Linked DNA regions of Homo sapiens. The protein of the gene in region 1 purifies or fractionates together with the protein of each later gene. This does not show direct contact. Each region holds a gene or a part of one and is shown on either strand. Other genes may lie near its edges.

Region 1 (2,279 bases):
AGCCGAGATCGCATAATTGCACTCCAGCCTGGGAAATGAGCAAAATTCCATCTCAAAATAATAATAATAATAATAATAATAATATTTAATGACAGGCTGGGCCAGGTGGCTCATGCCCGTAATCCTAGCATTTTAAGAGACAGAGGCAGGTAGATCATGTGAACTCAGGAATTCACAACCAGCCTGGGCAATATGACAAGACCCCATCTCTACAAAAAATACAAAAATTAGGTGTGGTGGTGCGCACCTGTAGTCCCAGCTACTTGGGAGGCTGAGGTGAGAGGATGGCTTGAGCCTGGGAGGCAGAGGTTGCATTGAGCTGTGATAATGTCACTGCACTCCAGCCTGGGTAATAGAGCGAGACCCTATCTCAAAAAAATAAAAAGGCTGGGTGTGGTGTTTACACCTGTAATCCCAGCACTTTGGGAGGCTGAGGTGGGTGGATCACCTGAGGTCAGGAGTTTGAGACCAGCCTGCCTGTCCAATATGGTGAAACCCCGTCTCTACTAAAAATACAAAAATTAGCCAGGTATGGTGGTGGGTGGCTGTAGTCCCAGCTACTTGGGAGGCTGAGGCAGGAGAATCGCTTGAACCTGGGAGGCGGAGGTTGCAGTGAGCCGAGATCGCACCATTGCACTACAGCCTGGGTGACAGAGCAAGACTCCATTTCAAAAAATAAGTAAATAAAATAAAAATGTTTAATGACTTGTTCTTGGAGGTCAAGGAGATGTCTCAGAGGCAGTCTCCCTGCACTGCCCTTTTAGCAGCTCTTGGCCAGGTAAAGGTCCTGTGGCAAGAAGGTGCTTCAGACCATAGGAGGTGCCCCAGGTACTCAGGAGGAAGCCTTAGAAGAGCGGCAAGGAGGCCGGGCGTGGTGGCTCATGCCTGTAATCCCAGCACTTTGGGAGGCCGAGGGGGGTAGATCACGAGGTCAAGCAATTGAGACCATCCTGGCCAACATGGTGAAACCTCGTCACTACTAAAAACACAAAATTTAGCTGGGCATGGTGGCATGCGCCTGTAGTCCCAGCTACTTGGGAGGCTGAGGCAGGAGAATCGCTTGAATCCGGGAGGTGGAGGTTGCAGTGAGCTGAGATCGCGCCACTGCACTCCAGCCTGGCTACAGAGTGGGACTCCATCTCAAAGAAAAAAAAAAGAGTGGCAGGGAGCTTGAATGTTATGGTGCAACTTGGACTGTCACCATTGCCCACCCTACCCCAGATCCCAAGACAAAAGCGTGGTTGAAGGAGCACGTGGAGCCTGTGTTCGGCTTCCCCCAGTTTGTCCGGTTCAGCTGGCGCACGGCCCAGACCATCCTGGAGAAAGAGGCGGAAGATGTTATATGGTGGGTGTCATGGATGTCCTGGGGGTGCTATAGGGAAGGAAGGAGGGAGGCCAGCGTTCAGCCCTGCCTGAGAGGGTTGCTCCCTGTGTAAGTGGTCACTGTCATCACCTCTCTCCCACAGGGAGGACTCAGCATCCGAGAATCAGGAGGGACTCAGGAAGATCACATCCTACTTCCTCAATGAAGGGTCCCAAGCCCGTCCCCGTTCTTCCCACCGATATTTCCTGGAACGCGGCCTGGAGTCAGCAACCAGCCTCTAGCAGCTGCCTCTACGCGCTCTACCTGCTTCCCCAACCCAGACATTAAAATTGTTTAAGGAGAACCACACGTAGGGGATGTACTTTTGGGACAGAAGCAAGGTGGGAGTGTGCTCTGCAGCCGGGTCCAGCTACTTCCTTTTGGAACCTTAAATAGAATGGGTGTTGGTTGATTAATTTTATTTGGTTTGATTTTTTTCATTTTTAAATTTTATTTATTTTATTTTATTTTATTTTATTTTTTTGAGAGACGAAGTCTCACTCTGTCACCCAGGCTGGAGTAGAATGGGGCAATCTCAGCTCACTGCAACCTCTGCCTTCCAGGTTCAAGCGATTCTCCTGCCTCAATTTCCCAAGCAGCTGGGACTATAGGCGTGTGCCATGCCCAACTAATTTTTTTTTTTTTTTGAGACACAGTCTCCTGTTGCCCAGGCTGGAGTACCATGGCACAATCTTGGCTCACTGCAACCTCCACCTCCCTGGTTCAAGCAATTCCCCTGCCTCAGCCTCCTGAGTAGCTGGGATTACAGGTGCACACCACCACACCCGGCTAATTTTCTTTTCTTTTCTTTCTTTCTTTTTTTTTTAATTTGAGACAGAGTCTCACTTTGTCACCAGGCTGGAGTGCAGTGATGCAATTTTGGCTCACTGCAACCTCTGCCTCCTGGGTTCAAGCG
Region 2 (3,500 bases), on another chromosome or scaffold:
ATAGGTAGCAAATGGGTTAGGTGTGGTGACTTACACCTGTAATCCCAGCACTTTGGGAGGCTGAGATGGGAGAATCGCTTGAGGCCAGGAGTTAGAGACCAGCCGGGGCAACGTAGTGAGACACTGTCTCTAACAACAACAACAAAAAAAACCCCAGAAAAACGAAGATAGTATATAGTTTTCTCTTCTTTTCATTCTTAATCAGAAATGAGTTAAATTATTTTTCAAAGTATACGGTTGTTTTTCTTGATGATGAGCTTGTCATTAAAATATGTGTTAACTGTTTTTACTGGCTTGTAAGTGGTTGAAATTTCTATTTGAACATTGATTTGTGATCGAAAATTTTTTTCCAAGGTTTTATTGAAGGTGTTATATCAGTACAAGGAGAAGCAATATATGGCTCCTCGAGTTTTACAACAGACATTAAATTATATTAATCAAGGAGTTTCTCATGCTCTCACCTGGAAGAATCTGAAGCCCCATATACAAGTAATAATTTTTATCTGAAATGTTTTTATAGTAAATATAATAGAAATGACATCAATTGCCATAAAGGTTGAAAAATTGCATGTTTGTTGAGTTGTGTTACTTAGACTACTTCTGGTGATTGTTTTGAGAGTATAGCAGAAAAAGGAGATAAGACAGTGACATAAAGTTATGAGAGGTATCTTGTGAATATTCAACTTATCTTTTAATCCAAAACTGTTGTCTTCAAACTTGCAATTTAAGTTCTTAATATTGGACTATGATTATATTTTATCATGTAATTTGGAGTAGCCAAGGGACTTTATCTCACCAGATTCATTTCTAGTATAAATGACTTACCTGCTATTTCTATGAATAATTTATGTGCTTTATTTAGAGCTGTAGAATTTTATAGACTATATATATTTAGAATACTTAATTGCGACCTTTGTACACATATATCTTAAAGTTACTTGTTACAGAAAGGGGAAGTACATGTAGTTTGATAGTTGATCTTAGAACACATTAAATGCATTACTAACGTTTGATATTAAGCTTTAAAATACATATAGTGTTACTTTGGTTTTAATACTTAAAGGAAATTTGAAGGTTTAAATTTGAAAACTGATGGTTATTGTTTTCTTAACTTTTAAATTGCAGGGCATTATCCAAGATGTTATTTTTCCATTGATGTGCTATACAGATGCTGATGAGGAACTTTGGCAAGAAGACCCTTACGAATATATACGCATGAAGTTTGGTAAGGAATTTTCACGTTTTTAGAAACAAAAAATGTCAGTAATTAAGATTACAGTGATTGCATGTAGCCAACCTAGGGGGTATTATGTATCTTCTTTGTTGTTTTAATGTAATTGATCCCTTGTGTAGTCCTTTTTGGGGCTATTTATTAATTATGACATTTGATAATGATAATCTTATTTTTGGCAGACACAAATTCAATACTGTTAAGTTTTTATTACTGAATACCAAAACTGTTAGATATTCAAGATTACACCTCAACACTAAATGTCTTAACTATACTTTTGGATCTTATGTTAGCCATCATATGAGTGGGAAATGAGAAAACACATCTAGGAAGCTGGTGTCACATGAAGTCCTTGCACAGAACTAAAGAATTGTAATTTGGCTAATAATGTTGAATATTGGTCCTTATTCTTACCAAGTCATTTGTGCTTTTTGCAGCTTGTACTTTTGTGACCCTGTTGTGAAAATTCTCACATCAGTAGTGTTTCATACATACGATTTAAACTGCTGAGTTCTGAGTTAATAAATAAAAATGAAAGCTATTAGGAGGAATTCATGGATTAACATTTAATTTTCACAGGCCAGGTGCGGTGGCTAAGGCCTGTAAATCCCAACGTGTTGGGAGGCCGAGGCAGGCAGATCGTTTGAGGTCAGGAGTTTGAGACCAGCCTGACCAATATAGTGAAACCCCATCTCTACTAAAAATACAAAAATTAGCCGGGCGTGGTGGCAGGCACCTGTAAACCAGCTACTTGGGAGGCTGAGGCAGGAGAATTGCTTGAACCTGGGAGATGGAGGTTACAATGAGCCGAGATCGCCCACTGCACTCCAGCCTGAGTGACAGAGCGAGACTCCATCTCAAAACAAACAAAAGCATTCAATTTGTACAGAAAAGACATTGAATTCTGCTTTTGCAAAATTATAAAGGGATCTGGGATCATTTTCATACCTTATGTAAAGATTAAGCATGTTTTTTAATGCTTTGTTGAAGAAATTAATGTTTATTGTCTTAATTTTAAACTTGTTCTCTAGATGTGTTTGAAGATTTCATTTCTCCTACCACTGCTGCCCAGACACTTTTGTTTACAGCCTGTAGTAAGAGGAAAGAGGTAGGCTTATTTAATGTTTAGATAACTTTTCTGTATTATTTAAAATTTATTCAACTATACACTTTTTAAATGTTAGTCATGTGAGTCATTTTGTTAGTATGTTTTTTAAGGACTGTTGGCCTATTCAGTAACAATACTTTTCTCTTTTAATCTAGGTACTGCAAAAGACTATGGGATTTTGTTACCAGATTCTTACAGAACCAAATGCTGACCCTCGAAAAAAAGATGGAGCCCTGCATATGATTGGCTCTTTAGCTGAAATACTTCTGAAGGTATTCTTTAGTGTGTTTGTATGTGCATGACTATGCAAGTAGTTTTAAAAAATAAATAGCCAGCCAGGCACAGTGGCTCACTTCTATAATCCCAGCACTTTCGGGATGCTGAGGCAGGCAGATTGCCTGAGCCCAGGAGTTTGAGAACAGCCTGGGCAACATAGTGATACCCCCATCTCTATAAGGATAAAAAATAGGCCGGGTGTGGTGGCTTATGCCTGTAATCCCAGCTATTTGGGAGGCCAGGGCGGGGGGATCACCTGAGGTCAGCAGTTGAAGACCAGCCTGGCCAACATGGTGAAACCCCGTCTCTACTAAAAATACAAAAATCCGCCGGGCGTGATGGCTCACGCCTGTAATCCCAGCATTTTGGGAGACCGAGGTGGGTGGATCATGAGGTCAGGAGATCGAGACCATCCTGGCTAACACAGTGAAACCCCGTCTCTACTAAAAATAAAAATAAAAAATTAGCCGGGCATGGTGGCTGGCGCCTGTAGTCCCAGCTACTCAGGAGGCTGAGGCAGGAGAATGGCTTGAACCCGGGACGTGGAGTTTGCAGTGAGCCGAGATCACGCCACTGCAATCCAGCCTGGGCGACAGAGTGAGACTCTGTCTCCAAAAAAAAAAAAAAAAATCAGCTGGGCATGGTGGTGGGCACCTGTAATCCCAGCTACTTAGGAGGCTGAGGCAGGAGAATCACTTGAACTTGGGAGGCGGAGGCTGCAGTGAGCCGAGGTCATGCCACTGCACTCCATGCTCCAGTCCAGGCGACAGAGACTCCGTCTCAAAAAAAAATAAAAAAATAAAAAATAACAACCTTATGGAGTGTACAACTCAGTGGTTTTTAGTTTATTCACAGTTGTATAACTATCACCCCCAGAAGGAACTC
Region 3 (3,500 bases), on another chromosome or scaffold:
AGAGGGCCAGATGCATTGGGACATTTTGAAACTTTGTTTCTGTACAGTAGGTCTCTTATAAAACAAGCTGTTCCTTCTAGCTTCTTTCTGTGTTAAGTACAAAAGCTACCCATGTCTCTCAATGTTAAGCATTGTATTAATAGTAATAACTTATTAAGCCCTTGATATACGCAGGGCAATGTTCTCAAAACTTTAAATATACTTCCTTATTTATTCCTAACAGTGGATAAAAATATTTTTTTATTAATAAAAACATTTTTTATCCACTTATTATTTTTCTAATTGTACATATGGAACTATTCTTTTTCTAATTTTACAGATAAAAGAGGAAAGTAATTCACAAACAGGATTACTAATTTATCCAAGGTTACACACTAGAAAATGATGAAACTTAGATTCAACTTGACTGCTCCTTCGTCAGCAGTAAAATGCAAAATATATACTTTTTTGGTGATATTACTTGTCAAAAAGATTCAGTTTGTGATCTAAATCAAACTTGAGTTAAAAGAAAACATTCTTTCTAATTGTTCACAGGTAGGAAGTCACGGAATAGAGGCAGCTTGGGCTGGTGGCAGAAATGGTCGGGAAGTCATGGACAGGTTTTTTCCCCTGGTTCCAGATCTCCTTTCACCAAGAGGATTATTCTATTTAGTTACCATTAAAGAAAACAACCCAGGTAATACAGACCAATTTATTGTTTAAGCATTTATGTTGCTGAAATCAAAAGTTAATAATGTAAAATGCTTTAATTTATAAGATAACCTGGCATGTTAATGAATCACTTAAAACAGTTAATCACTGACAGTAGCTAATACAGGCATAAATTTATGTTGAAAGAGAAAAGAGGTTTTCAGAGGTAAATTTTTCTGATTTTAAAAAGTATTATCTTCTCTTTTCCCCGTTTATAACCTAATATTCAAGTATAAAAATCTCTAATGTTTTTTTCTAACACCTCACTCTCAGTATTATGAATTTTCTCTCTACCCTCTAGTCTTCATGCCCTTGACAATTGTGCTGTACTCTTTAGTTCGTTAGGAGTTTTATCATGAAAGCTATTTAATTGTATAGATTTTTATATCTTTGTTTTCAGATTGCTTTATAACTAAATTGACCATAATCTTTCCTCTCTTTTTCTGTACACTTCAAGTTTGATTTTCAGCTTATACTAAAAGTCCTCAGCCCTTCAAATCACATGATTGCTAGTTTTCTCTTGTCTTTCTCCCTTCCTTCCTTCCTATTTCTCTCTTTTCTCTTTTTTTCCTTCCTTCTCTCCATCTTTCTTTCTTCCTTTCTTCTTTCCTTTCCTTTTCTTTTTCTTTATCTCTCTCTCTTCTCTTCTCTTTTCTTTTTTCCTTCTGTCCATCTTTGTCTCTTTTTCTTTCTCTTTCTCTTCTCTTCTTTTTTTCCTTCCTTCTGTCCATCTGTCCTTCCTTCTCTCTCTCTTTCTTTCCTTCCTTCTTTTTTTTCTTCCCTTCCTTCCTTCTTTCTTCCCTTCCCTTCTCTTCTTTCTTTTTTTTCTTTCCTTCCTTCCTTCTTTCTTTTTCTTTCTTTCTCTCTTTCTCTCTCTCTTCCTTCCTTCCTTCCTTCCTTCCTTCCTTCCTTCCTTCCCTTCTCTTCCCTTCCCTTCCCTTCCTTTCCTTCCTTCCCTTCCTTTCTCTCCCTTCCCTCCCTTCCTTCCTCCCTCCCTCTCTTTCTTTCTTTCTTTCTCTTTCTTTCTCTCTCTCTCTTCTCTTCTCTTTTTTTCTTCCTTCTGTCCATCCATGCGTCCTTTCCTTTCCCTCCCTTCCCTTCCCTTCCCTCCCTCCTTCCCTCCCTCCCTCCCTCCCTCCCTCCTTCCTTCCTTCCTTCCTTCCTTCCTTCCTCCCTCCCTCCCTCCCTCCCTCCATTGTCTTAGTTCAGTCTTCTTAGTTTTATTTATTTATAAGGAAGGTTTTCTTTTTTCAATATGCCTGAAAGAAATAAGCTACTTCTTTCACTCTCACTGTGCAATGTCACTATTCAGTTTGTCCACACCTTCATTGGCTTTTGTCATCCAAAGAGAAAGACATAGGGCAGAGATTGGAGCCAATCAACTAAAAAACTGATCACTTGCTATAATAACAATGACAATTAATGTTTCTGCTGAGTCAAAAGTAGGCTGTGACTGCAAAGCAAGCCATTTATTCTGATTAGACTCACCAGCAACACTTTGAAAATACCAAGTGCTCCCATTTAGCTGAAGACCAAGTTCACTTTAGTAGACATTTATTTGATATACATTGTTTTGTCAGATGAATACAATTTATAAATCATCTGTGTTTAACTTATTAAATTGCTTATTGATCATGCACACTACCAAATGGCTTAATGGATTTTACCTTTTGATTTTTATTTTAGAAGAAATTTTGAAAATAATGAAGACAAAAGGTCTGCAAGGAACCACTGCACTTTCCAGACAAGCAGGCCAAGAAACTCTTTCAGTCCTCAAGTTCACCAAGTCTTAGCATACAGTGTGTGCCCAGAACTACTGGAAACTGAATGCATTTAGCATATTTTGAAACTGAAGTCATTCATTAGGTAACAAGGAATTTTATCAGAAATTTGTCATTAAAAAAAGGTAGAAAGGTGGAACATTCCCTTTCAGTCAGGCCTATAGAATTATTTGCACAAGTACAAGTAAATATGTGTATTATATTTATAGTTTGCATTTTAAATATAAAAATTATGTATGAAATATTTATTTCAGCATTATGTGGTAAGGCAATGGAATTGATCTGGCAAATGTCTTTTTTTTCATACCAGTCCATAAAGGCAGTTTGCTTTCAGATGGCAGGGCCAGCAACACACCTTCATTGTCGTATCTCCGGTGTGTATCAGCTCTCCAACTCTATGTCATAATTCAGTTCATGGGGATCTTGATTACCTTTCCCTTCCACAAAATATTACACTGATTGGTTATATCGATGACATTATGCTGATTTGACCTAGTGAGCAAGAAGTAGGAACTACATTAGACTTAGTGGAAAGACATTTGCATCAGAGGGTAGGAAATAAATATGACTACAATTCAAGGGCCTTCTACCTTAGTGAAATTGGTAGGGATCCAGTGACATGGGGCATGTTAGGATATTTCTTCTACGGTGAAGGATAAGTACTTGCATCTTGCTGCTCTTAAAACCAAGAAAGAGGCACAATACTTAGTGGGCCTCTTTGGGTTTTGGAGGCAACATTTTCCAATTTCATTATGTTATACCAGCCTGTTTACCAATTGACTCAAAAAGCTGCTAGTTTTGAGTAGGGCCCAGAACAAGAAAAGAGTCTGCAACAGGTCCAGGCTGCTGTGCAAGCTGCTCTGCCACTTGGGTCATATGATCCAGCAGATCCAGTGGTGTTTCAGTGGCAGTGGCAGATAGGGATGCTGTTTGAAGCTTCTGGCAGGTCCCTATAGGTGAATCTTGGTTTAGGATTTTAGAGCAAAGCCGTGCCATTACCAACAAATAACTAGTCTCTTTTTGAGAAAC
Region 4 (3,500 bases), on another chromosome or scaffold:
GGATCACTTGAGGTAAGGAGTTTGAGACCAGCCTGGCCAACATGGTGAAACCTTGTCTCTATTAAAAATACAAAAATTAGCCAGGTATGGTGGCAGGTACCTGTAATCCCAGCTATTCAGAGGCTGAGACAGGAGAACTGCTTGAACCCGGAAGGTGGAGGTTGCAGGGAACCGAGATCACGCTGTTGCACTCCAGCCTGGGCAACAAGAGTGAAAATCCGTCTCAAAAAAAAAAAAATTAACTAATTAAAAAAAAAACTAGCCAGGCAGGGTGGTGCATGCCTCTAATTCCAGCTATTTAGGTGGCTGAGGCACAAGAATTGCTTGAACCTGGGAGGCAGAGGGTGCAGTGAGCTGAGATCACACCATTGTAACTCCAGCCTGGGCAACAGAGTAAGACTCTTGTCTTCAAAAAAAAAAAAAAAAAGGACACTAAGGAAATGGAACAATTATTAAAGGGGGAAAATGCTATCAAGGACATTACTGGGACAACTGGTGAAATCTGAATGTGGACTATGTTTTAGAGGGTGTACTATATCAATGTGAAACTTCCTGATTCTCGATTGTACTATGGTTATGTAAAATAACATCCTTGCTTGGGAAGTGGTATCTGCCACTAACTCTTGAATGGTTATGGGAAAAACCGTATTCCCTTGGAGGAGGGAGAGAGGGATGATAAAGTGAACGTAGCAGAATGTTCAGAAGAGGCGACTATGGGTAAAGGGGATGCGGGGTTCTTTCTGTTACTCTTGCAACTTGTTTAGCTTTTTGAAGCCTTTAAGAGACTTTGCATACATTTCATTTGCCTTTCTTGGGTGTCTTCGGTGGCAGGTGGGCTGGAGGGAGGGCTGGTCTGATTTATTTGGTCCAGAGCACAGAGACTGGAAGTCTCGAATAAACACACACATTGCAGCTTTCCTGTTCTGTGGCGCTGGCACACCACCCTGCAACCACGCAGTGTTTCCTCACCCAAGACTGTATCTTGGCGCTTTCTTTGCCCCACCACCGAGGGGCTTTCTCATGATTTTTTGTAGCTATAAAGAATGTCACTATATGGGTAAAATACATATATAGCCAGTCCCCTATTAACAGGCCTTTTGCAGTCAGTTACTCTGTATACAAGTCATTTCATGTATGTGTGAAGTTGTTTTGTAGAATGTATTTCTAGAAATGGAATTACTAGAATTATTTGAATTTTGAATGGTACTAAGGCTGCAAAGTATGTAAAATTTACCAAAACAGATAACAGTAATTGGAGGGAGTGAATGTAGATGTTTAATAAGGACGGCTGGATTTTGACAGTTGCTGAACTGGGGTGATGGGTACATGAAGCTTCATTTATTTTGTATCTGTCTAAAATTTTCCTAATAAAGTTTCTGAAAAAAATAATTGGGCATTGCTAATAAAGCAGTACTTAGAAGAAAACATATGGCCTTAAATGTATATTACAAAGAAAGAAAAATGGAAAATGAGCTAAGAACCCATCTCAAGAAGTTGAAGAACAGCAGCAAAATAAACTCAAAGAGAGCTGAAGGGAGGGCGTGATAAAGAGCTGACATTAGAATAATCACAAGATAGGGTCAACGCAATCAAAGCTGGTGCTTTGAAAAGACAATCTCTGGTAACTCCTATTCAAGCAGTAACAAAAGAGAGTAGGTATAAATAGCCAACATTAGCCATCAGAACATCACTCAGATCCTGCAGACATTTTGCATAAACCATCTACGGAAAATAGATACTGGTTTCCTGTAGGGCTACGCGTGGCTGGTGAGTGGTAAGGGGACACTTTTCACTGTGTTTCCTTTCAGGTTTCTTTCTTTCTTTCTTTTCTTTTGAGATGGAGTCTTGCTCTGTTGCCCAGGCTGGAGTGCAATGGCATGATCTCGGCTTACTGCAACCTCCGCCTCCTGGGTTCAAGCGATTCTCCTGCCTCAGCCTCCTGAGTAGCTGGGACTACAGGCACCTGCCATCATGCCTGGCTAATTTTTGTATTTTTGTAGAGACGGAGTTGAACCATGTTGGCCAGGCTGGTCTTGAACTCCTGACCTCAGGTGATCTGCCCACCTTGGCCTCCCAAAGTGCTGGGATTACAGGCAAGAGCCACCGTGCCCAGCCTACGTTTCTTTAATTCTGGACTACGTAATCTATTACCTATTCCAGAAAAACAGCAAAATCAAACTGAACAGTCAAGTCCTTTTTCCTTATGGGTGGGGCATGATATTCAGTTCTGTATTTGAATTGTTACACACAACTAAAACGTTCTAACTGGGAACCGACCAAGTCATTTAACCAGCGCTAAAGCACGGGGTCTCGGCAGGGTAACACATCTGAGTCACCTGGAGCTCTGAACAATCCTGACAGCCAGACCCCACACCAGACCAATCCCATTCATGCGAAGCCAGACCCCACACCAGACCAATCCCATTCACGTGGCACTGGTATTTTTTAAAAGTTCCCCAGATGATTTTGAAGTGAGAGCTGGGCTGAAAACCAGAGAATTGCTAGTGTTTACAAAGTTCCAAATTGGGTACACAAAGGTAACTGGAACTCCTGGATGTCTGGAGCGTGTGCTGAGTTGTCAACTGTCTGAAGTCCCCTGAGGCGTGGGAGTCTGGCCTGCACACGCACCCAGCCCATCGCTGCCGTCATTTTACTCACTGTTCTGGGCCACCTGGTCCCTTTCCAGTCCCTTGAATGTGCCCAGCCAGTGCTGGCTCAAGGTGTCCGCATTCACTACTCTCTGTCCGAACATCTTCAGTCTCATCCCCGCATGGCTACCCTGCCACCGCTTCTGCTTCCATAGTCTTCCCTAACCACTCTATCTGATTGCCCCCGACGTCCCTTCTACTCTATTTTTGTTTTCTTTTTGGTACCATGCTATCTGAAATGAGCTTATTTGTTTACAGTCTCTTCCCAGAACTAAATGTGAGTTCCTACTCTGTGCCTGGTATACAGAAGGTAGTCAATAATTATTATTAGTTTGATATCGTTATCATCAATGTAGTTTTTAGGTTAATTCTATACTATACAAAACTTGGCATTTGTGTCAGCAGAATGGATGCTCTACCAGGCAAGGAACTTGTCTTTTGTTCAATGCTGTATCCCCAGAGCCTAGAAAAATGCCTGGCATATAGGCACCTCGTATTTGGTGGGTGAAGAGTAATTCTGAGCCTTTGATTTTTCAATAATTGGAATTGATAAAAGGTATGTACTGGGAAAATTCACTTCATTGTTACTAAAGTACCTATAATATCACCTCCAATGCCTGCCAAGGTCAACTCGACTGTATGGTAATACTTCCTTACACGATTATTTTTCCACTGGAAAACTGAAATAGGAGGGAGGTGGGTGGGCCATAGGTATTATGCTCTAGCTAAAATCTGTAATCACAAAACACCTGAGGCGTGATGATCTATGTGACACTAAAAAAAGGGAAGAAAAATGAAAAACATATCCAACTAGTGATGTATTTAGTGTCATGAAAACCTGATCTACCTAGC

Evidence for each region. The genes of interacting proteins can lie anywhere in the genome.
Region 2: the proteins of RNASEH2A (region 1) and IPO7 fractionate together in Homo sapiens (co-fractionation; one large-scale study listed by BioGRID). This does not show direct contact.
Region 3: the proteins of RNASEH2A (region 1) and HEMK2 purify together in Homo sapiens (affinity purification with mass spectrometry; one large-scale study listed by BioGRID and IntAct). This does not show direct contact.
Region 4: the proteins of RNASEH2A (region 1) and TTF1 purify together in Homo sapiens (affinity purification with mass spectrometry; one large-scale study listed by BioGRID and IntAct). This does not show direct contact.

The regions. Positions count from the first base shown.
Region 1 is NC_000019.10:12,811,862-12,814,140, forward strand, and holds the end of RNASEH2A (ribonuclease H2 subunit A), read left to right. Parts: intron 1-1,221; coding exon 1,222-1,345; intron 1,346-1,466; coding exon 1,467-1,605; 3' UTR 1,606-1,779; downstream 1,780-2,279. UniProt on the Homo sapiens protein: Catalytic subunit of RNase HII, an endonuclease that specifically degrades the RNA of RNA:DNA hybrids. Participates in DNA replication, possibly by mediating the removal of lagging-strand Okazaki fragment RNA primers during DNA replication.
Region 2 is NC_000011.10:9,422,652-9,426,151, forward strand, and holds part of IPO7 (importin-7), read left to right. Parts: intron 1-354; coding exon 355-489; intron 490-1,125; coding exon 1,126-1,225; intron 1,226-2,262; coding exon 2,263-2,339; intron 2,340-2,494; coding exon 2,495-2,611; intron 2,612-3,500. UniProt on the Homo sapiens protein: Functions in nuclear protein import, either by acting as autonomous nuclear transport receptor or as an adapter-like protein in association with the importin-beta subunit KPNB1.
Region 3 is NC_000021.9:28,875,368-28,878,867, reverse strand, and holds part of HEMK2 (methyltransferase HEMK2), read left to right. Parts: intron 1-534; coding exon 535-676; intron 677-2,376; coding exon 2,377-2,483; 3' UTR 2,484-3,500. UniProt on the Homo sapiens protein: Methyltransferase that can methylate proteins and, to a lower extent, arsenic.
Region 4 is NC_000009.12:132,382,841-132,386,340, forward strand, and holds part of TTF1 (transcription termination factor 1), read right to left. Parts: intron 1-3,500. UniProt on the Homo sapiens protein: Multifunctional nucleolar protein that terminates ribosomal gene transcription, mediates replication fork arrest and regulates RNA polymerase I transcription on chromatin.